Linked DNA regions of Homo sapiens. The protein of the gene in region 6 purifies or fractionates together with the protein of the main gene of each other region. This does not show direct contact. Each region holds a gene or a part of one and is shown on either strand. Other genes may lie near its edges. The genes, in order: FBXL5, TRIM16, EML4, TBC1D14, GPNMB and TFEB.

Evidence for each region.
Region 1: the proteins of TFEB (region 6) and FBXL5 purify together in Homo sapiens (affinity purification with western blotting; one study listed by BioGRID). This does not show direct contact.
Region 2: the proteins of TFEB (region 6) and TRIM16 purify together in Homo sapiens (affinity purification with western blotting; one study listed by BioGRID). This does not show direct contact.
Region 3: the proteins of TFEB (region 6) and EML4 purify together in Homo sapiens (affinity purification with mass spectrometry; one large-scale study listed by BioGRID and IntAct). This does not show direct contact.
Region 4: the proteins of TFEB (region 6) and TBC1D14 purify together in Homo sapiens (affinity purification with mass spectrometry; one large-scale study listed by BioGRID and IntAct). This does not show direct contact.
Region 5: the proteins of TFEB (region 6) and GPNMB purify together in Homo sapiens (affinity purification with mass spectrometry; one large-scale study listed by BioGRID and IntAct). This does not show direct contact.

What each region holds. Positions count from the first base shown.
Region 1 is NC_000004.12:15,645,358-15,648,857, reverse strand, and holds part of FBXL5 (F-box/LRR-repeat protein 5), read left to right. Parts: intron 1-3,500.
Region 2 is NC_000017.11:15,677,812-15,681,311, forward strand, and holds part of TRIM16 (tripartite motif-containing protein 16), read right to left. Parts: intron 3,143-3,500; coding exon of another isoform or gene 3,054-3,142; intron 1-3,053.
Region 3 is NC_000002.12:42,301,853-42,305,352, reverse strand, and holds part of EML4 (echinoderm microtubule-associated protein-like 4), read right to left. Parts: intron 2,250-3,500; coding exon 2,124-2,249; intron 2,039-2,123; coding exon 1,907-2,038; intron 870-1,906; coding exon 802-869; intron 1-801. UniProt on the Homo sapiens protein: Essential for the formation and stability of microtubules (MTs). Required for the organization of the mitotic spindle and for the proper attachment of kinetochores to MTs. Promotes the recruitment of NUDC to the mitotic spindle for mitotic progression.
Region 4 is NC_000004.12:6,923,326-6,926,825, forward strand, and holds part of TBC1D14 (TBC1 domain family member 14), read left to right. Parts: intron 1-47; 5' UTR 48-64; coding exon 65-786; intron 787-3,500. UniProt on the Homo sapiens protein: Plays a role in the regulation of starvation-induced autophagosome formation.
Region 5 is NC_000007.14:23,260,275-23,263,774, forward strand, and holds part of GPNMB (transmembrane glycoprotein NMB isoform b precursor), read left to right. Parts: intron 1-181; coding exon 182-499; intron 500-3,500. UniProt on the Homo sapiens protein: Could be a melanogenic enzyme.
Region 6 is NC_000006.12:41,687,109-41,690,608, forward strand, and holds part of TFEB (transcription factor EB), read right to left. Parts: intron 2,704-3,500; coding exon 2,623-2,703; intron 921-2,622; coding exon 800-920; intron 702-799; coding exon 645-701; intron 62-644; coding exon 1-61. UniProt on the Homo sapiens protein: Transcription factor that acts as a master regulator of lysosomal biogenesis, autophagy, lysosomal exocytosis, lipid catabolism, energy metabolism and immune response.

The DNA.
Region 1 (3,500 bases), on a different chromosome or scaffold from region 6:
CAGAGGATGTACTCTCAGCAAATTTCAAGTACATAATACAGTATTATTAGCTATAGTCACCATACTGTACCTTATATCCCCAGAACGTACTCATCTTAGAACTGAAAGTTAGTGTTCTTTTTTCAGCATCTCCCCATTTTCTCCATCCCCTGCCCCAACAACCACCTTTCATATTCTCTGCTTCTGTGAGTTCTACTTTAGATTCCATATATAGTGAGATCATACATTATTTATCTCTCTGTCTCTGGCTTATTTCACTTAGCTGTCTTCCAGGTTCATCTATGTTGTTGCAAATGACAGGATTTCCTTTTTTATGACTGAATAATATTTTATTGTATATATCACATTTTCTTTACTCATTTGTGGACAAGCACTCAGGTTGGCTCCATATCTTGGCTATTATGAATAATGCTGCATTGAACATGGGAGTGCAGATATCTCTTAGAGATCCTAATTTTATTTACTTTGAACATATACTCAGGAATGGGATTGCTGGAACTTATGAAAATTACATTTTTAATTTTTTGAGGAATTTCCATACTGTTTTCCATAATGGCTGTACCAATTCCTTTCTAATGATATTTTATTTTGGTCTGAATACAGAATTAATAACAGAAAAGCCTACTAAATAAGCCTTACAGATGCCTAGGTAGGGCTTATATTCTGTGTTCTTTATATTAACTTATTAAATTATCACAGGTAGCCAGGTGCAGTGGCTTGTGCCTATAATCTCAGCAACTCAGGATGCTGAGTCAGGAGGATCGCTTGAAGCCAGGACTTTAAGACCAGCTTGGCCAACATAGTGAGACCCCGTCTCTAAAAAATAAAAAAGTAACTGGGTGTGGTGCACACCACACCTGTAGTTCCAGCTATTCGGAAGGCTGAGGCCAGCAGGAGGATCACTTGAGCCCAGGAGTTTGAGGTTGCAGTGAGCTATGATCATGCCACTGCACTGCAGCCTGGGTGTCAGAGCAAGACCCTGTCTCAAAAAAATTCTCACAAGAACTCTGTGAAGTAGTTAATATTATTAGCCCTGTTTTACAGATGAAGAAACTGAGGTACAAAGAAATGTAATGACTTGCTGGTAGAATGGATTTACACCTAGGCAATCTTGCCCTAGAGTCAGTGCTTTTAACTACTGTGCTAGGTTAGCTGGATATAGATTCTACCTGTAATTTAGAGTCTCTTTATATAGTTACTATAGTTAATTTGACTGTCAGTTTGTGGCATGAAACTAATCTTTACCTTAATGTGTTATTAGATCTAAAAGAATTTCTAATAGTCTAATGAGAATATATGCAAAATTCCCTGTATGTCTTTTAATATATTATTTTTCTTAACTCATGTTAGGGCATTACAGTCTTCCCTTGGTATCCTCCTATTTTGTGGGAGATTGTTTTCAGGACACCCATGAATACCAAACTCCATAGATGCTCAAGTCCCTCAGATAAAATAGCATAGTATTTGCATGTAACTTACACATATCTTCCCATACACTTTAAATCATCTTTAGATTACTTATAATACATAATACAGTGAAAATGCTATGTATGTAGTTGTTATATTGTTTTTTGTTGTTGTTGTTTATTTTTATTTTTTTCAACATTTTCTTTCTTTTTTTTTTTTTTTTTTTTTGAGATGGAGTCTTGCTTTGTTGCCCAGGCTGGAGTGCAGTGGCATGATCTCGGCTCACTGCAACCTCTGCCTCCTGGGTTCAAGTGATTCTCCTGTCTCAGCCTCCCGAGTAGCTGGGACTACAGGTGCACACCACCACTCCCTGCTAATTTTTGTGTTTTTAGTAGAGATGGGGTTTCACCATGTTGGTCAGGCTGGTCTCGAACTCCTGACCTCAGGTAATCCACTCACCTCAGCCTCTCAAAGTGCTGGGATTACAGGTGTGAGCCACCATGCCCAGCCTTTTTCAATCCACAGTTGGTTGAATCTGTGGTTTCTGCATCCCCACGGAGGCTGACTGTGTTTACTTTTTGCCATTAAAAAAATAATATCTAGAAGCTGGAAACCATCATTCTCAGCAAACTGTCGCAAGGACAAAAAAACCAAACACCGCATGTTCTCACTCATAGTGGGAATTGAACAATGAGAACAACATGGACGTGGGAAGGGGAACATCACACACCGGGGCCTGTTGTGGGGTGGGGGGAGGGGGAGGGATAGCATTGGGAGATATACCTAATGTTAGATGACGGGTTAATGGGTGCAGCACACCAACATGGCACATGTATACATATGTAACAAACCTGCACGTTGTGCACATGTACCTAAAACTTAAAGTATAATAATAATAATAATAAAAAATATTTAGCATTAATGGTTTCTTTTGATTTTGTACCCTGCTTCTACTAAGGCTATTTTTAAGTTTGCCTTTTTTTTTTTTTCCAAAAAATGATACATGATAGTGTTTGCAGAGATTAGCCACCAATAGATTTTATTGTAATCTTGTGGGGCATTTCTTATGATTTAAAAAAAAATCTATAATATGTATTTAACCAAGTATGTCCTGCCTGTGTTTTTTGTGTGGCTTAAGAGCCAAGCATCACTTTTACATTTTTAAATAGTTGGAAAAAATCAAAAGAAGAATAGTATTTTGTGACATGTGAAAAATTATATGAAATTTGAATTTCAGTGTTTATAAAGTTTTATGGAAATACAGCTACAGTCATTCATTTACATGTTGTCTATGACTACTTTTGTGCTACAACTGCTGAGGTAAATAATTGCTACAGACCACATGGCCTGCAAAAGTTAAAATATTTATTACCTGTCCTTTTATAGAAAAGTTGCCAATTCTTGCTCTAGATTATTTACTTATGTATTGCAGTTAACTGTTCATTGTCTTATTTACCTTCACTGAAATGGAAACTCCATAAAGGCAAGAAATCTTTGTTTTGTTCATTGATATATCCCAGGTACCAAAGAACAGTGCCTGCCTCATCATAGCTACTCAGTAAATATTTGTATAGAGTAAAAAATGTATGAATTTATAAAAAATGAATATTTAATTTTCAAAATGATAATAGCTAATGTTTATTGAGTACTAACAACCATGTGAAATACAGATGTTTTATTATATCCATTTAACATCAAGATTAACACATTAAGAAAGAAAAGTAGGCCGGGCGTGGTAGCTTATACCTGTAATCCCAGCACTTTGGGAGGCCGAGGCGGGTGGATCATGTGGTCAGGAGTTCAAGACCAGCCTGGCCAAGATGGTGAAACCCCATCTCTGCTAAAAAATACAAAAATTAGCCGGGCGTGGTGGCGAGCACCTGTAATCCCAGCTACTCAGGAGGCTGAGGCAGGATAATCGCTTGAACCCAGGAGGCAGAGTCTGCAGTGAGCTGAGATCATGCCCCTGCACTCTAGCCTGGGCGACAAAGCAAGACTCTGTCTCAAAAAAAAAGAAAGAAAGAAAAGTAACTTACCCAGGGTTACACAGTTAAGTAATGGTAGAACTGGTATCCCATCCTAGAGAATGTGAC
Region 2 (3,500 bases), on a different chromosome or scaffold from region 6:
GATTTTATTGACTCGTATATTAAAGAATCTTAAAATCTTAAAATGTGTATACCCCTCTGACATAATTTGATAGTTTTGTTTTACAGTAATTTTATATACAGAACTCAATTATAAGAAAACTATCGGCTGGGTGCAGTGGCTCACGCCTGTAATCCCAGCACTTTGGGAGGCCGAGGTGGGCAGATCACGAGGTCAGGAGATCGAGACCATCCTGGCTAACATGGTGAAACCCCATCTCTACTATAAATACAAAAAAAATTAGCCAGGCATGGTGGTGGGCGCCTGTAGTCCCAGCTATTCGGGAGGCTGAAGCAGGAGAATGGCGTGAACCCGGGAGGCGAAGCTTGCAGTGAGCCGAGATCACGCCATTGCACTCCAGCCTGGGCAACAGAACGAGACTGTGTCTCAAAAAAAAAAAAAGAAAACTATCAGAAATATGGAGAGTTATAAACAAAGAATCACATCTATTTATACCTTACAATAGAAAAATAGCAAAATCGTTCTAAATAACCTAAATGTTTGAGAACAGTGCTACGAGCTGCTAACTGTCCATGAAAATATGCCTCCTCCTCTCCTTTCTAGGTATACAAACATTTCCCAACCTCCTGTAGTTAGACCTGGCCATGAGATCCTAACCAATGGAATGCAAGCAGGAGTGATGTGCGCCCTTTCCAGGCCTGACTCACGTATGTTCCTCCATGCTGTTTTCCCCTTCTGACTGGCTGGTAGGGCCATGAGCCCCAGAGTGAGTTTGGAAGCCATATGGTAAAGAGGCTAGAGCTTCAGGTAGCTCAGGTCCCTGAATGGCCATCCTATCAATCTATATACCCACTCACATGGCTATGACAGCAAACAATACACTTCTATTGTATTAAGGCCATATATATTTTGGGTCTATTGGTTACAACAGTTATTAGTAAGCCAACCCAAACTAATTCAGAAATCAGCACCTTCAAGTGGGAGATATCATAATAAAAAGTTCAAATACACAGGTGGCATTGGATTGACAGTCAGGTGGCAAGCTTCAAAGAAAAGAATATTTACGACTGGAGAAATGCAGACTCTCCTTTTTTTTTTTTTTTTTGAGACGGAGTCTCACTCTGTTGCTGGAGTGCAGTGGCCACGATGCTCTCGGCTTACCGCAACCTCCATCTCCCATGTTTAAGCGATTCTCCTGCCTCAGCCTCTTGAGTAGCTGGGACTACAGGTGTGAGCCACCACGCCCAGCTACTTTTTTTTGTATTTTTAGTAGAAACGGGATCTCACCATGTTGTCCAGGCTGGTCACAGACTCCTGACCTCAGGTGATCCGCCCACCTCGGCCTCCCAAAGTGCTGGGATTACAGGCATGAGCCACCGCATCCAGCCAACAGATGCAGACTCTTAATATACACTGGCAAACTAATTAGCAACTATGAGGCCAGGGCAAATGCTCACTGGGCCTGTGGCTCTAGAACAGGTTGGAAAGCACCAGAACGCTCTTTGTGTAGAATGCTCCTGGATATGTCTGGCGAACAAAGAATGAGTTAAGTTCAGGAAACAATGTGTCAATTTTCAAGCCAAAACAAAAGAGAATAGAGTGCAGAAATCTGAGGCCTCACGTGGTTGGAAAAGCAAACTGTTTCTAGATCTCATACAGTGGGAAGTAAGTCTAACAAGAGCTTTGAGCAATAAAGGCCCATTACACCTGTTAACTAAACAAAGTGATTTAGCCCTGTAAAAAAAATGTCAGATTAAGGATGTGGCCTTCCCACCCAAGCCTATTGTTTAGCCGGCCTTAAGGTTATCTTCAGTTAAGTTGAGAGAGACACATGGTAAGTAAGAAACTAAGAAATAGGCCAAGCTGGCCGGGCGTGGTGGCTCACGCCTGTAATCCCAGCACTTTGGGAGGCCGAGGCGGGCAGATCACAAGGTCAGGAGATCGAGACCATCCTGGCTAACACGGTGAAACCCTGTCTCTACTAAAAATACAAAAAATTAGCCGGGCGCGGTGGCGGGTGCCTGTAGTCCCAGCTACTCGGGAGGCTGAGGCAGGAGAATGGAGTGAACCTGGGAGGCGGAGCTTGCAGTGAGCTGAGATCGCGCCACTGCACTCCAGCCTGGGCGAGAGAGCGAGACTATGTCTCAAAAAAAAAAAAAAAGAAAAAAAGAAATAAGCCAAGCTTGAGAATTATATCTAGGAAAGAACTTTGAGTATAAGAAGCCTTTAAGTTTTTGTGGAACAACACCTCTGTGATTTCAATGTACTGACTTTTTTCCTGTGCCAGAGGAATCAGTATCTTGCTTTGATTCTAAGTCATTTATGTCACTAACTTTCTATAAATCTTTCAAGAATTTACTCAGCTTTCAGGGCCCACATCAAATCTCACTACTTTCATTAGCCTAGGAGCTGCTTAAAAGGACTTTAAAATGCTAGTTGAATGAATAAAACCTTCCTAAATCTCTCTCAGCCAGACACATTTGCTCCTGCTCCTCCAAGTCCATACAGCATTTTCCCTAAGACACTTTATATTGAGTAGGCCCTTAATAATAAGGCCCTATTTAATAATAATAAATCTGCTGGTTTGTGCCACACAGATTTGTGTACATCTTTTCTCCCCAAAATATTCTAAGCAGATGCAAGCAAGAAATGCCTCACGTGCCTTTGCATATCTATGCCAAATGTCTCAAGTGAACAAAAAGAAGCTTGATTCTTACCCAACCATGTTCTAGGAGTCACGCTCCTCAATTATCTGCTAAAGAGGCCTCATTCCCATCCTGCCCCTACCATCCTTTCTCTACACTGCCAACTGATGGGCGAGGCTACCAAGCCTCCTGACCTTCACTGCTACTGCCATACAACTGAGGAACACGCAAACACCATCTCATTGGCAGTCCATCCCACCTGCTTGATCCTTTCCTTTCAAACTGCTGTGGCTAATGTGGTTGACAAGCTTCATGCTAAGAGAAAAAAAATTTGCTTCAGGAATTAAAATAAGATTTCTGAGAAGAGAGGAAAATCCCCAACTCAATTAAAATAAAATTTCCAAGAAGAGAGGAAAATCCCCAACTCACCTGGGACTCTGCTGTCCGGCAAAGAGCAGCCATATTTTCCTTCTTAAGATACCCCTTTTGGGAAAGGGCAGGGTCCTCAGAGGGCAGAACTGGAAGGAAATTGACATAAAGGAACCTGGTTTATCTTTATGTATCTCAAACCTATGAATTTAGAAACAGCCACTTATGAGAAAATGTGCCTCTGACCTTGGCTGTCCATAGCTTGAAGGATTTTACAGACATCTATGTAATGAGACTTCAAAGATAATCTCAGAGGATAGAATGAACATAAACTCAGGGAAAGGTATGACCATTAACTGGGCTCAGGATCTGCGTGAGCCACTGCTCTGAAAACGAGGTTCCCTGGGACCAAAAAACCCTAAAACAAAACAAGAAGTGCAATGTTACAGTTGGAGAGGTGCTTAAAGACCTCCAGGCTCAACTCCTTTATTCGCAAATGGAGAAAGT
Region 3 (3,500 bases), on a different chromosome or scaffold from region 6:
TATCATTTTGCAACTGCACTCCCTCTTAATCTCCCATCATTTTCCCTATCCTCACATGGTTCTTAACATTTTCTAATATAATTCGTGATAATGTTTATTATTTTTATTTTTTGTAGAGATGGTGTCTCACCCAGGCTGGTCTCAAACTCCTGGCCTCAAGCAATCTTCCTGCCTCAGCCTCCCAAAGCACTGGAATTACTGGCGTGGGCTACTGCAACTCGCCTTATTATTTTTTTTGAGATGGAGTCTTGCTCTGTTGCCCATGCTGGAGCGCAGTGGCACAATCTCGGCTCACTGCAACTGTCTCCCAGGTTCAACTGATTCTCCTGCCTCAGCCTCCAGAATAGCTGGGATTACAGGTGTGTGCCACTGCGCCTGGCTAATTTTTGTATTTTTAGTAGGGACGGGGTTTCGCTACATTGGCCAGGCTGGTTTCGAACTCCTGACCTCAGGTGATCCGCCCACCTTGGCCTCCCAAAGTGCTGGGATTACTGTGCCTGGCTGCGTCAGGGCTTATTTTTTATTCTGTCCCATACACGCTAAAATGTAGGCTTCACAGGACAGGAATTTTTGTTTTGTTTTCTGATGTATTCTGAATACACACAATAGCATGTAGCATGTCGCAAAAGGCAGGTGCTCAATAAATAATTGAATTCTATGAATATACAAAACGGATAAGAACAACAAGCATATTAGTGTGCCACTTAAGAGATTAATTCTCCAGATCAGATTGAGAACATTCCTGAATAGCATTTAAACATCCCACCACTTCAGATTACTCAGTTCACTTAAAGACCCTACCTGCCTGAGTGCGTTCCTATGGCCACCACTGTGCCACTTGGATGAAAATCTGCACAGTGTCCTGGTTCCTAGAAAAGAGACAGACAGCTGTTGGGGAGTACATGAGAAAGTCTCCCTATGGGGACAGTAGCAAAAACTTCTGAAAATAACCTGTTTCATTCAAACATAACATTTCAATCAACTTTGTAGCTAATGAGAAATACCACACAGATATGAGAGGAAAAAGAATTTCAGAGCATGAAGGGGATATGCTGGCAGAGTGGTGAGGGAAAGGGACAACCAGCTTGTGGCTAGGGAGTGGAACAATAATAAGGATAATAACAACAAACACTGGTACAGTTCTTTAGCATCCACAAAGAACTTATATACACCTCTTGGGCTAGAGAAGGTGGATATCTGGGTTGGGTAGAGAGAAAATACAGTAAGAGACCACCCAGAAAGAAGACAGTAGAGCCTGTTAGTGAGCAGCACTTACTGAATCCAACTGCAATGCCACCCGAGGCACAAATGTTTCCATAATAATTAATGCTATGTAGATATTTGAAATCTTTATGATTTTACTACTGAAGCTGATGGACAAATTGAGCTTTTACGCTGCTAACTTACTTCTTCTATTTTTTATTTTTTGAGACGGAGTCTCGCTCTGTTGCCCAGGCTGGAGTGCACTGGCACGATCTCGGCTCACTGCAAGCTCCGCCTCCCGGGTTCATGCCATTCTCCTGCCTCAGCCTCTCGAGTAGCTGGGACTACAGGCGCCCACCACCACGCCTGGCTAATTTTTTGTATTTTTACTAGAGACAGGGCTTCACCGTGTTAGCCAGGATGGTCTCGATCTCCTGACCTCGTGATCCGCCTGCCTGGGCCTCCCAAAGTGCTGGGATTACAGGTGTGAGCCACCTTGCCCGGCCTAACTTACTTCTTTAAAATCGGTTCATGTTCACACTTTAAGACTAAACGCTACCCTCTTATCTCCACCCTCTATTACTAAACCATATGTTTACATTTGGTTTGAATCAACACTTAGTCCTTTTTACTTTGCTGCTCTCAACTGCCAGTGTGAGGAGTTTCTGTGGGGAGGTTAATAATCACATCCTGCTTCACTCACATCTACCAGCCTGGTCCATTCCAGCCTGTGTTCCATTGAGTTCCACAGGCACACCTGCCTGTCCTGAGCACATGTCAAGAGCAAATCTTTGAAGGGATGTGTGGCAAGACCCCAAAGCTCATCTGTATGACCCTGAAAATGAAAGACACTCATTGTTATAAGAACCAAAGAATATCATAAAAAATATTCAGTTAACGGTTAATATCACACAGCTTACCTGTACTTCTATTTGGAAGCCATCATTAAATGTTCCTCGTAAAATAAAGTTTCGTGATGTGCCTACTAAAAATTGATCTGCCTTTCCTTCTGCTACAGCTCTGATTGTGCCATACTGATCAGGAACCTAGAAAAAAAAGTGTAAAGTCACCATATACATACTAATATGCATTAATTACTACTCGAAGCCTGCATTTATAGCTGTAAGCAATTATGAGGTAATTATGACGAAAGCCCAAATTTGGATATGGTAATCTCATACTACTACTAATTTATTTGTCCAATGACATTTTATTATACAGAAGTTATAATAATTATCAACATTCTTTGCTTCAGTTAATTTTAAACGTATATTTTATATGACTTTAGGAGTTAAGGGTTAAGAACAGGGAAAAAAGGCTGGGCATGGTGGCTCACACCTGTAATCCCAGCACATTTGGAGGCCAATGCGGGTGGATCACCTGAGGTCAGGAGTTCGAGACCAGCCTGGCCAACATGGTGAAACCCTGTCTCTACTAAAAATATAAAAATCAGCCAGGTGCGGTGGCGGGCGCCTATAATCCCAGCTACTGAGGAGGCTGAGGCAGGAGAATTGCTTGAATCCGGGAGGCAGAGGTTGCAGTTAGCCAAGACTGGGCCACTGTATTCCAGCCTGGGCGACAGAGCAAGACTCTGTCTCAAAAAAAAAAAAAAAGAAGTAAGTTCTATTAGCTCACATGAAATCACATGAAGAATGTGGTCGGGTTTTGTTACTTATTAGTTATATTAGTTACATTACTTTGGGTAAGTTACTTAGCCTAAGAAACATTTTCTGTAATATAAGGATAATAATACATGCCCTACCCACTCTTGATTGTTGTAAGGATCAAAATATAAAAATATTCTCACCACAAAAAAATGATAAATGCATGAGGCAACAGACATACTAACTACCCTGACTGGATTACTATACAGCATATCTGCATCAAAACATCAGATTGTATCCCATAAATATGTTCAATTACAATGTGTCAATTAAAAAAATGTAATGTGGAAGTTCTCTGTAAATTAAAAAACAATATATTATAAAGTATTATAATAATAGGATTCCTTGGGAGAGCAATTTCATTTAATGCAATACATGGAACAATCTCAGTGAATGCTGTGTTAATACATTTAATAATAATCTCAAAGAATGATTCTGAAATAATGGAATTATAAATCCCACTTTATCAAGTGGGATCTAAAATTACTCCTAAAAATACAAATAACTGAACTCTAAGAGGAATCCAAATTTACATTAGAAATGGGAAAGGAAGGAGTGAACTAGATTGTATAGCTTTTATTAACAAAGGATATGAGTTATCTGTGAAGAAAACAGTGATGGAAGTTGCATTTT
Region 4 (3,500 bases), on a different chromosome or scaffold from region 6:
TTTGAATTTTATATCCACTTTAATTTCCATGTTTGTGTTTTTTCTAGTTTCTCCTTGGACCAAGATGACTGATGGAAAACTCTCCACCTCTACAAATGGCGTAGCCTTCATGGGTATTCTGGATGGTCGACCAGGAAACCCCCTTCAGAACCTGCAACACGTCAATCTCAAGGCGCCCCGACTCCTCTCCGCGCCTGAGTACGGGCCCAAGCTGAAACTCAGGGCTTTAGAAGACCGGCACAGCCTCCAGTCCGTGGACTCGGGGATTCCTACCCTGGAGATCGGGAACCCGGAGCCTGTACCCTGCAGCGCGGTCCACGTGAGGAGGAAGCAGTCCGACTCCGACCTCATCCCCGAGCGGGCCTTCCAGAGCGCCTGCGCGCTGCCATCCTGTGCGCCACCAGCTCCTAGCAGCACCGAGCGGGAACAGAGCGTGCGCAAATCCTCCACGTTTCCCAGGACAGGCTATGACTCGGTAAAGCTCTATAGCCCGACCTCCAAAGCCCTGACCCGCAGCGATGATGTCTCCGTCTGCAGCGTGTCCAGTCTTGGGACAGAGCTGTCCACCACGCTGTCCGTCAGCAATGAGGACATCTTGGACCTTGTGGTCACGAGCAGCTCCAGTGCCATTGTGACCCTGGAGAATGACGATGACCCACAGTTTACCAACGTCACCTTGAGCTCTATCAAGGAAACCCGTGGCTTACACCAGCAGGACTGTGTTCATGAAGCTGAGGAGGGGAGTAAATTGAAAATATTGGGGCCATTTAGTAACTTCTTTGCAAGGTAATGCCATCTTTGCCCTCTAGAAGATCGTGGTGGTTGAGTCCAGACCAGTCTCCTTGTTCCTGTCTCAAATGTGTTGTGTGTTCTCTGTGGTGTTAGGCAGGCACTGTCTCACACAGATAATTGGGTCTTTTCCCAGAAGCCCGGAATCCTGTGGGATTGTGAGAACTGGTCTGTTGGGGATTCTGTTCTTCGGTGTCCCTGGCTCATTTGCAGTCTGTTGTCACATCTCTGCCTCTGACCTGCTGTGGCTGTCCCACAGGTGGCCAGTGTTACCAAATCAGCAGCCTGAGCCTCTGCGGGGCCCTGTGCACTCATAACTTAACGTTTCTTGGGCCAAGCAGAGGGCACTGGTGAGGGTGACGCCAGTGAGTAACTCTCATTTCTACTGCCAGCCCCTGCTGGCATAGTGCAGTGCTGGCATGCCGGGTGTTCCAGCCGTGTCCCCGTGCCCCTGGATGGCTGTGCTCTCGTGTGCCTGTCCTGGCCCTGCCTCTGCTGTGGAGGTGTGTGCTCTGCTGCACTGCAGCCCCATGCATTCCCAACGTGCTGGGCCTGGCCATGCACTCCGTCCCCATGGGGCCTTGTCACCTGAGTGCTGGAGTTCCTGTGTCTCCCTGAAGCCCTGGGGGGGCCGCGCCTTCAGCTTCTGCCTCTCGTTTGTGCTCTCATGCTTTTGTTCAACAAGTGCCTATTTCCTAGGCCCTGTTCTAGGCTGGTCATGTGGGGTAATACGGTGAGAGAAACGATGTTGGGTCATGACTTAGGGTGGGCTTGTGGCCTGGGGGTGGTGGGAGTGGACACCTTCGTCACACAAGCAAATGTGAACTCCCGAACGGTGGCGTGCTGGGAGGAAGGGCACAGGGGCTGTGGAGAGTACGTGTAGAATTGAGATCTGTGGCTGGGTGCAGTGGGTCACTCCTGTAATCTCAACACTTTGGGAGGCTGAGGTGGGTGGAGCACCTGAGGTCCGGAGTTCGAGACCAGTCTGGCCAACATGGCAAAACCCCGTCTCTACTAAAAATACAAAAATTAGCCAGGTATGGTGGTGCACGCCTGTATTCCCAGCTACTTGGGAGGAGGAGGCAGAGGTTGCGGTGAGCCGAGATCGCGCCACCGCACTCCAGCCTGGGCGACAGAATGAGACTCCATCTCAAAAAAACAAACAAACAAAAAAAGAATCGTGATCTGCTCCATAGCTGCTCTTTGGAGGGCTCTGGGGCCGGGGCTTGGCAGGTGGGAACATTTCTGCAGTTGACCCTGGCTGCCCCGTGTGTGTGTCTCTAGCAGAACCCACGTCAGACATTGCAGTACCGGGTGTCCCTTTGAGATGGTGTGGTGTGCCGGCTGGAGTCAGCTGGCGACTCTGACTGTGGCCAACACATTACCACTGCCTTAGTTGCTTCATCAACTAAAGGGGATCATCTCGGACCAGCCTAAGGCCAGTCCTGAGTGAGATGATCTGTGGTGTGGTCTGTGGTTTTGTCGGGAAACTTTCTTCTCGAATGTGCTGACAGATAGGTATCTTGGTACCATGAGCACAGTTCCTGGTCTCAGAATGCAGTAACTCAGCGATTGCCCTCAGTGGGAGGAACCTGGGAACTTTGGGGGAGATCTTGTCACTATCCCTTCTGAGGCTGTAGCCATATCGCGGTGTTGCTGTGGTTAGATTTGTGTGGCGGAACTTCCCCGTGCTCAGACGAGTGTGTTCAACTGTCCCTGCTTATGAACAACACCTGGTACCCGTTCCACGCGGACCTCAGGATCCATCCAGACATACAGAATCAGAAGCTCAGCGAGAAGGGCCTGAGGATGGGTTTTCAGAAATGTGGGAAACCTTGCTTGAAATGGGTTTGGCCGGGAAACAGCATGGTGGAAGGAGTGTGGCTTTGGAATTCAACCGACCTGTGCCATGTCCAGCTCTGTGCCCTTGAACAAGTTCCTTCACCTCCCAGTCAGTTTTCTCACCCCTAGAACCGTGCGCGGAGGAGCGTGGCCCGTGTGCCCATTATGCTGTTGACGAACGCCACACGCTCACCTTTGTCCTCGCACGTTCTGTCTCCGCTGCCTCACCTGAGAAGTGGGGATAATGAGCCCTTCCTTCCGTGGCAGTGGGGATTAAAATGGGTTAGCATGTGAGAAATTTAATGCAGATCCAGACACGTAGTAAACTTTTAAGTATGAGTTGCTTGTGGCGATCATGGCCACGTTGCTCTTTCTGCCGCCGTTGTGATTCAGCTGACTGAGCTGTGTATATTGGATTCTCTTCCCCTTTGAAAGGAAGCATCGTTGGTTATGCAATTTCTAGATCATTTCTAAAGCTACCGTTTCTTGGAAGTCATACTCAGCTTTGTGCTGCAGGAAACAAGTGTCTCTTCTTTTATTCCTTGGTTCCTTATCCTCGTTGTGATGGCTGTGACATTGTTATTGTGAGCCTCTCTGAACTACCTTTGGGAAGATAATGGAATATAATGAAAAATGACTTAAAACAAGTGATGACATGGGCAGAGTCTAGGGTTCTTTTGTCCTAGAGTCTTAAAAATGTTAGAGAAGAGTTTCCATGTAGAGTTCCTTTGAGGGGAAAGGGTTTCTGTGCCAGAATCTTTAGAGCTCACTAAACATTTTACAGGTGAGTAAATGGAGTTACAGTGAATGTTCATCAATTCAGCCCAGGGCCTGGCCCACAGCAGGTACCCAGAGGACTGTGGGCATCG
Region 5 (3,500 bases), on a different chromosome or scaffold from region 6:
TTGTAGTTCATCTGTTTTCCAGAATAGCTTAGGGAAACCCCAGAAAACTTGCATGTGAAAAGGAAAATAATGCTAAATTATCCCTCATTTTAATATTTCAACCTAAAAGCATCGTCGAAGCCCTCCACTTACAATCAAGCAATCATGCATTCTTTATTTCTTTGGGGGATGTATCTTTTAGATCAGATTCCTGTGTTTGTGACTATGTTCCAGAAGAACGATCGAAATTCATCCGACGAAACCTTCCTCAAAGATCTCCCCATTATGTTTGATGTCCTGATTCATGATCCTAGCCACTTCCTCAATTATTCTACCATTAACTACAAGTGGAGCTTCGGGGATAATACTGGCCTGTTTGTTTCCACCAATCATACTGTGAATCACACGTATGTGCTCAATGGAACCTTCAGCCTTAACCTCACTGTGAAAGCTGCAGCACCAGGACCTTGTCCGCCACCGCCACCACCACCCAGACCTTCAAAACCCACCCCTTCTTTAGGTAAGGTTTCGCAGTGATCTTTGAGGGAGGCTCCTTAATGGCTAACAAAATATTCACGCAGGTCATATTATTAAATCCCTCCTTAAGGGGATATTGTAAGGACTCTGCGGTGATTCCATTTTCTACCTGTTGATTTTTTAAAGCAAAGTTATCACCATTTTACACCTATAGAACACAGAAGAAGGAAGAATGTATGTAAAGTCACTTTGCAAATAGAATTCAGTGACTTGTAGAAAGTTCTTTGACCCTCCTCATTTGCACTGGTCCCTGCTATGTGTACACACTCTCCCCTCTTCTAACCTGTCACATTTTTGTTTATCTCCCATTTTTTATGGCTATGAGAAGGCACACTGGCTCCTTATACGATCAGGTCATTTCTATGTTCCTTCCTCTCCCCCACTAATTTCTTTCCCTACCCTGCCCACACCTACCCAGTGTCCATGAAAACACAGCTGTACTTGAAAGCAATTTCCAAATGGTCCAAGAAAGAATGTAGCTTGAGAGTATGTCTGGGTTAGCAAGCTGCAGTGACTCCTGACATTAAAATTGTGCTGCATCGTATGTTTATTGCGGCACTATTCACAATAGCAAAGACTTGGAATGAACCCAAATGTCCATCAATGATAGACTGGATTAAGAAAATGTGGCACATATACACCATAGAATACTATGCAGTCATAAAAAAGGATGAGTTCATGTCCTTTGTAGGAACATGGATGAAGCTGGAAACCATCATTCTGAGCAAACTATCACAAGGACAGAAAACCAAACGCCGCATGTTCTCATTCACAGGTGGGAACTGAACAATGAGAACACTTGGACACAGGGCGGGGAACATCACACACCAGGGCCTGTCGGGGGGTAGGGGTAGGGAGGCGGGATGGCATTAACAGAAATACCTATTGTAAATGACGAGTTAATGGGTGCAGCACACCAACATGGCACATGTATACATATGTAACAAACCTGCACTTTGTGCACATGTACCCTAGAACTTAAAGTAAAATTTAAAAAAAAGAGAAAAATAAATAAAAATAAAACTGTGCTGCATTTAAGGCATGATTAATTCAATACCACCCTATATTAATAGTCTGGGGACATTCAAGAAGTCCTTAAGAGTCCACTTTGGGTAGCACTGGCTTCCATCTGATTCCCCACGCTACCCCATGCCATCACCACCCTTTTCCCACTGGGCCAGTTGCACTCAGCACCCCAGGATCCTGGGGATAGCAATAGGCTGACATCCTCTCACTGGTCACAAGAGGGCGCCAGGGACCAAGCCCACGACGGTCCATCATGACGTCTGGGGCTTCTTGTTTTTACAAAATCCTGTTTGTTATAAATTATAAAGTTTTACAATAAGATGTTAGTAATAAAATGAGAGCTTGTTAAATCAAGCATATCTAAGTCAAGACAACACAAGTTATCACTGATTTCGATTATCTCAAAAATGTTTTAAATTACAAAGTTTATGCATGTTCCTTAGTAAAAATTAAAACAATGTAGATGTCTAGAGTAAAAAGCAAAAGTCCCCACTCGTACTCTCCTCCCAAGAGTTAAACCCTGTTAATAATTGGGAGGATTTCTTTCCAGATATTTTTCTATGCATTTATAAACATATACTATATATACACATAAGGTTTGTTTTGGTTGTGTAAATGGGTTCATTTACACAAGAGGGCTATTCATATTGTTTTACAATTTGCTCTTTTTCTAATTTAACAAACATTATAGACATCTTTCCACTGTTAATACATATAAGTCTATCTCACTTTATCCAGTGGCTGCATAGTGTTTCATAGAATGTATGTACTGTCATTTATTTCACCATTCTCTTTTTTTTTTTTTTTTTTTTTTTTTTTTGAGACAGCGTCTTGCTCTAACACCCAGGCTGGAGTGCAGTGGCACAATCTTGGCTCACTGCAACCTCCACCTCCTGGACTCAAGTGATCCTTCTGCCTCAGCCTCCCAAGTGGCTGTGGCTACAGGCATACACAACCACACCCAGCTAATTTTTTTATTTTTTAGTAGAGATGGGGTTTCGCCGTGTTGCCCAGGCTGGTCTCCAACTCTTGAGCACAGGTGATCTACCCACCCCAGCCTTCCAAAGTGCTGGGATTATAAGCGTGAGGCACTGTGCCCGGCCCACCATTCTCTTATTGATGGATGATTAGATTAATCCTAATTCCAACTACAATTATAACTGTATTGAACAACTTTAAATATACAGCTTCATTCTAGTAATCCTTTAGGAGAAGCAATTTTTTTTATCTACAACTATTAATGATCTTCTTTACAAATAAGAGGACCAGGTATAAAATTCAAAATAAATTACAGATGCTTTTAATATTTAAGTTCCAGAATGGTAAAAGACTTAATGTTAGGTTGTTTAATGTTAGTCTACTTTGAATTGCATTTTTATTAAACTAGCTTGTTTTTCTTATAAACTATTTATATCATAGCATGTTTTAAAAATATATTTGAAGCCAATGAAAAGCTATTTAAAATTTCTGTTGTAATTTCTCCCTAGGTGACACCATAAGATATAAACTAGTGGGCCAGGCATGGTGGCTCACATCTGTAATCCCAGCACTTTGGGAGGCCGAGGCAGGTGGATCACCTGAGGTCAGGAGTTCGAGACCAGCCTGGTCAACATGGTGAAACCCCGTCTCTACCGAAAATATAAAAATTAGCCGGGTGTGGTGGAGAGTGTCTGTAATCCCAGCTACTTGGGAGGCTGAGGCAGAAGAATCGCTTGAACCTGGGAGGTGGAGGTTGCAGTGAGCCGAGATCGCGCCATTGCACTCCAGCCTGGGCGACAAGAGAGAAACTCTGTCTCAAAAAAAAAAAAAAAAAAAGATATAAACTAGCAACCCCTACAAGTTAGTTAAGTTTTATTGCGAAGGAAAGCTGCCTGGCTTTATCTAAAGGTGTTAGATCAATCATAATCAACCCCAAAATGCCTTAAACCAGCATCTCTCTTAGGGAGAGCGAGGAGGGA
Region 6 (3,500 bases):
GGGATCAGCATTCCCAACTCCTTGATGCGGTCATTGATGTTGAACCTTCGTCTCCTTTCAACTAAAGGTAACAGATTCCAGAAGGAGCAATTAGAGGGATGGGGACCCCCCACCCCATGGGGAGAAGTACCCAGCCCAGGGAGGGGTGCTTCAGGGCAGCCTGCAGCTTAGATTTAGTTCTTCCAGGAAGTAAGAGGTGACCAACAGATTGGGATTTCTACAGGAATTAGGGGGTCCAGGGCAAAGGCCAGACACAATTAAGAGCACTGAAAGGTAGAATCAGCCATGGTGATGCTCGTAGCACAGCAAAGCTGCCTGGGGTAGGACTCTTCCCTGCTACACAGAACTCTGATGCCCCAGGTTCCATGCCTTAACCCAGAAAACAACCTGATAAACTGGGGGTTTCATGAATATCCCTTACAGGAATCCTTCCTACCCACTCCTAAAGAGGCCTAGTGGAAAGACAGCACTAATAGTCCCAGGCACCACTGAGCGACAGCAATGGGAGGGCTTAAGCCATCTGCAAGTGAATTGGCCTTGAGCAGGGAAGCCTTCCACCAGTGCAGGTCAGGGAGTGGCTTTTTAGCCAGCCCAGGTGAGAACAAGGAAGAGGGAGGCAGGGAGAGGGGCGGGGCAGGACTCACTTAAGTTGTGATTGTCTTTCTTCTGCCGCTCCTTGGCCAGGGCCCTGCTCTCAGCATCTGGAGGCCAAAAGAGAAGGAGAGAGGAGCTGGGAGGGAGGGAGAAAAGGAGGGAGGAGTCGGGTATTCAAAGGCACAGGGGTAGAGGGAGGCAGTACCTGTGAGCTCTCGCTTCTGGGTCAGGTCCGCAGGGCAGGAGCTGCTGGTGACGCCCACCAGGGAGGCTGTGACCTGGGGGTCGCTGCTGTACACATTCAGGTGGCTGCTGGACAGGGGTAGCTGTGGGGTAGGGGGTGAGGGAGACCCATGAGTATCCCCCTCTCCACGGGGAGCCCCCTCTAGGGCCTATCATCCCAGGAGCAGTCCTTCCTGGGGACACCTGGAGTGTCAAAATTCACCTTGGGCCCTTTCACCCAGCAATTCAACCTGAAGGTCTGCAGAGTCCAGAGCTATTATAAGATGTAGTCCCTGCCCTCAAGGAGCCCCTGGCCTAGAGTGTCTGAGAGAGTGATCCAACCAATAATATGTGATAGGATTAGGCCCCAGGCATTATGGAAGCCCTAGAGCAGGTCATCTAATCAATTCTAGAGTTTCTGGACGGTTTCCTGGAGGGTGTGGAACTCTGAGTCTTGAGCAGAGATGTGAGGCAAGGCACTCCGGGCAGCCACCAGGGCACAAGCAGACAGGGCAGCTTGGCAGAGCACAATTCCAGCAGCTCAAGGGCAGAAGTGGTGGGGGTGGAGGTGCTGTAGGCAGGGCAGATGTATCTGGATCCCCAGTACAGTGTTTGACTTGCAAAGATACTGGAATTTTGGAATGGGCAGCCAAGGGAAGTTGAAGCAGGAGTCTGACAGGGAGAGATCTGAGCTCTGGAAAGATCTGCCACAGAAACATGCAGAACAAATCACAGGCCCAGACACCCCACAGTGTACACAGGAACTACTAAAGGGACCAATCACTTGCATCCTCCCTCCCTCCTCAGCCCTCGCTGCCCCTGCTAGCTGTAGGTTTGGACCCAACCAGTCCCGGCCAGCTCCTACTAAGCCACTCAGCGATGTCACCAGGGCAGTGGGGACAGAGGATTGACTCCCCACCACAGGAACTGGGGACTTTCCCTTGGTGGCATGGGCTGGGGCCAGGATCAGGGTGAAAGGCTCATGCCCAAAGGCAGGAGTAAGTAGCTGAGGTTCAGGAGCTCCAAAGAAAAGTGGGTGGAAGGGGCGCTGGCAATCCCACCTGCCCAGCGTACACACCTGCCACCTTTGTAGAGAGCTTGCCCTCAATTTCTTCCCTCATCTAATCTTCCCACAATCCTGTGGGTAGAGAGCATCACCCCCATTTTGCAGCTGAGAAAACTGGGGTTTAGTATGCTTGAGGGATTTCCTAAGGTCACAGCAAAAGCCAGAAGCCAGGCTTCTTGACTCCAAGCCCAGCACCTCCCCACCTGCTACCCCACCTCTGCCAGGAGACGCAGGAAGCTGCCAGAGGGAGTGTTCCTGTGGTTGGGGACAAGGCCAGCCCCAGATCACTTGCCCCATGGAGTAAGAGACACAGACAGGCTTTTGCCTGTTGGGCCCTGGGTTTGGTAAAGGAGGGGAGGCCCAGGTCCCCAAAGGAGCTCATTAGTTCCACACCTTCCCATAGACACACTGCCCCTCCACCCATGCAGTGCTCTCCCTGCCTCCCTCTGCCCCTTCGCCAACCTGGAAAGCTCCCCCCACAGGCCCACTCCGTGTCCCCAGCCCCTTCTCCCCTCTGAAGCCCCATGGTGCACAGAGGCTGAGGCACATCCTTCTTGCTTCATAATTCCTCTTGGCCCCGGCCTTTGTCACATTATTTAATGAAAATGACTCATCTCTACAGAAACATGCCAGCTCTGCCCAGTGAGAACCCTGTCTCCACTCTCTCCAGGCTCAGAGCCACAGTGGGTGCCCCCCTCCCTAGAACCCTTGCACACCCACCCCACCCTAGCCAGGAGTACCGTGTTGGGCATCTGCATTTCAGGATTGATGTAGCCAAGGACATCGTCCAGACGCATAATGTTGTCAATGACATCATCCAACTGGAAAAGAGAAAAGTCCATCTGGGGAGGGCCCACCACGAGGTGGGCAGGGGAAAGAGGCATTGGGACAACCACTGACCTGGAGGGACCTTGGAGCCCACCTCACCCAACCTACTTATCTGGGGAAAGAGGAAATAGGCCCAGAGAAGAGATGAGCTGTCCAGGTCCCACTGGCCCAACATGAAGCTACGGTTCTTGCCAAGGAGCCTACCTGCCCAGGGAGCTTCCTTGATCTCACTTCTGTCTCTGGCTTGGGGAGTGTGCTGGGCTTTCCTGGATAAGTCTTCTGTTTCTCCCTAGCAGAGCTTTCTTTTTTCTTTTTTCTTTTTTTTTTTTCGAGAAGGAGTCTCACTCTGTCGCCCAGGCTGAAGTGCAGTGGCTCGATCTCAGCTCACTGCAACTTCCGCCTTCCCGATTCAAGTGATTCTCCTGCCTCAGCCTCCCAAGTAGCTGGGATTACAGGCGTGCACCACCACGCCCAGCTAATTTTTGTATTTTAGTAGAGATAGGGTTTCACTATGTTGGCCAGGCTGTTCTCAAACTCCTGACCTCAAGTGATCTGGCTGCCTCAGCCTTCCAAAGTGCTGGGATTACAGGCGTGAGCCACGGCACCTGACTTCCTAGCAGAGCTTTTGAAAGTAAGGATGGCGTTTCCTCTGTGAGGCTCCCTGAGGGCAGGGCTGTGTCTTCCCCCCTGAGATTGGGGCTCCCTGAGAAGGGCTCTGTCCCCACCTCAGACTGAGTCTCCCTGAAGGCACCCCTGCCTCTGCCATTAGACTGGGAGTCTCAGAAGCACA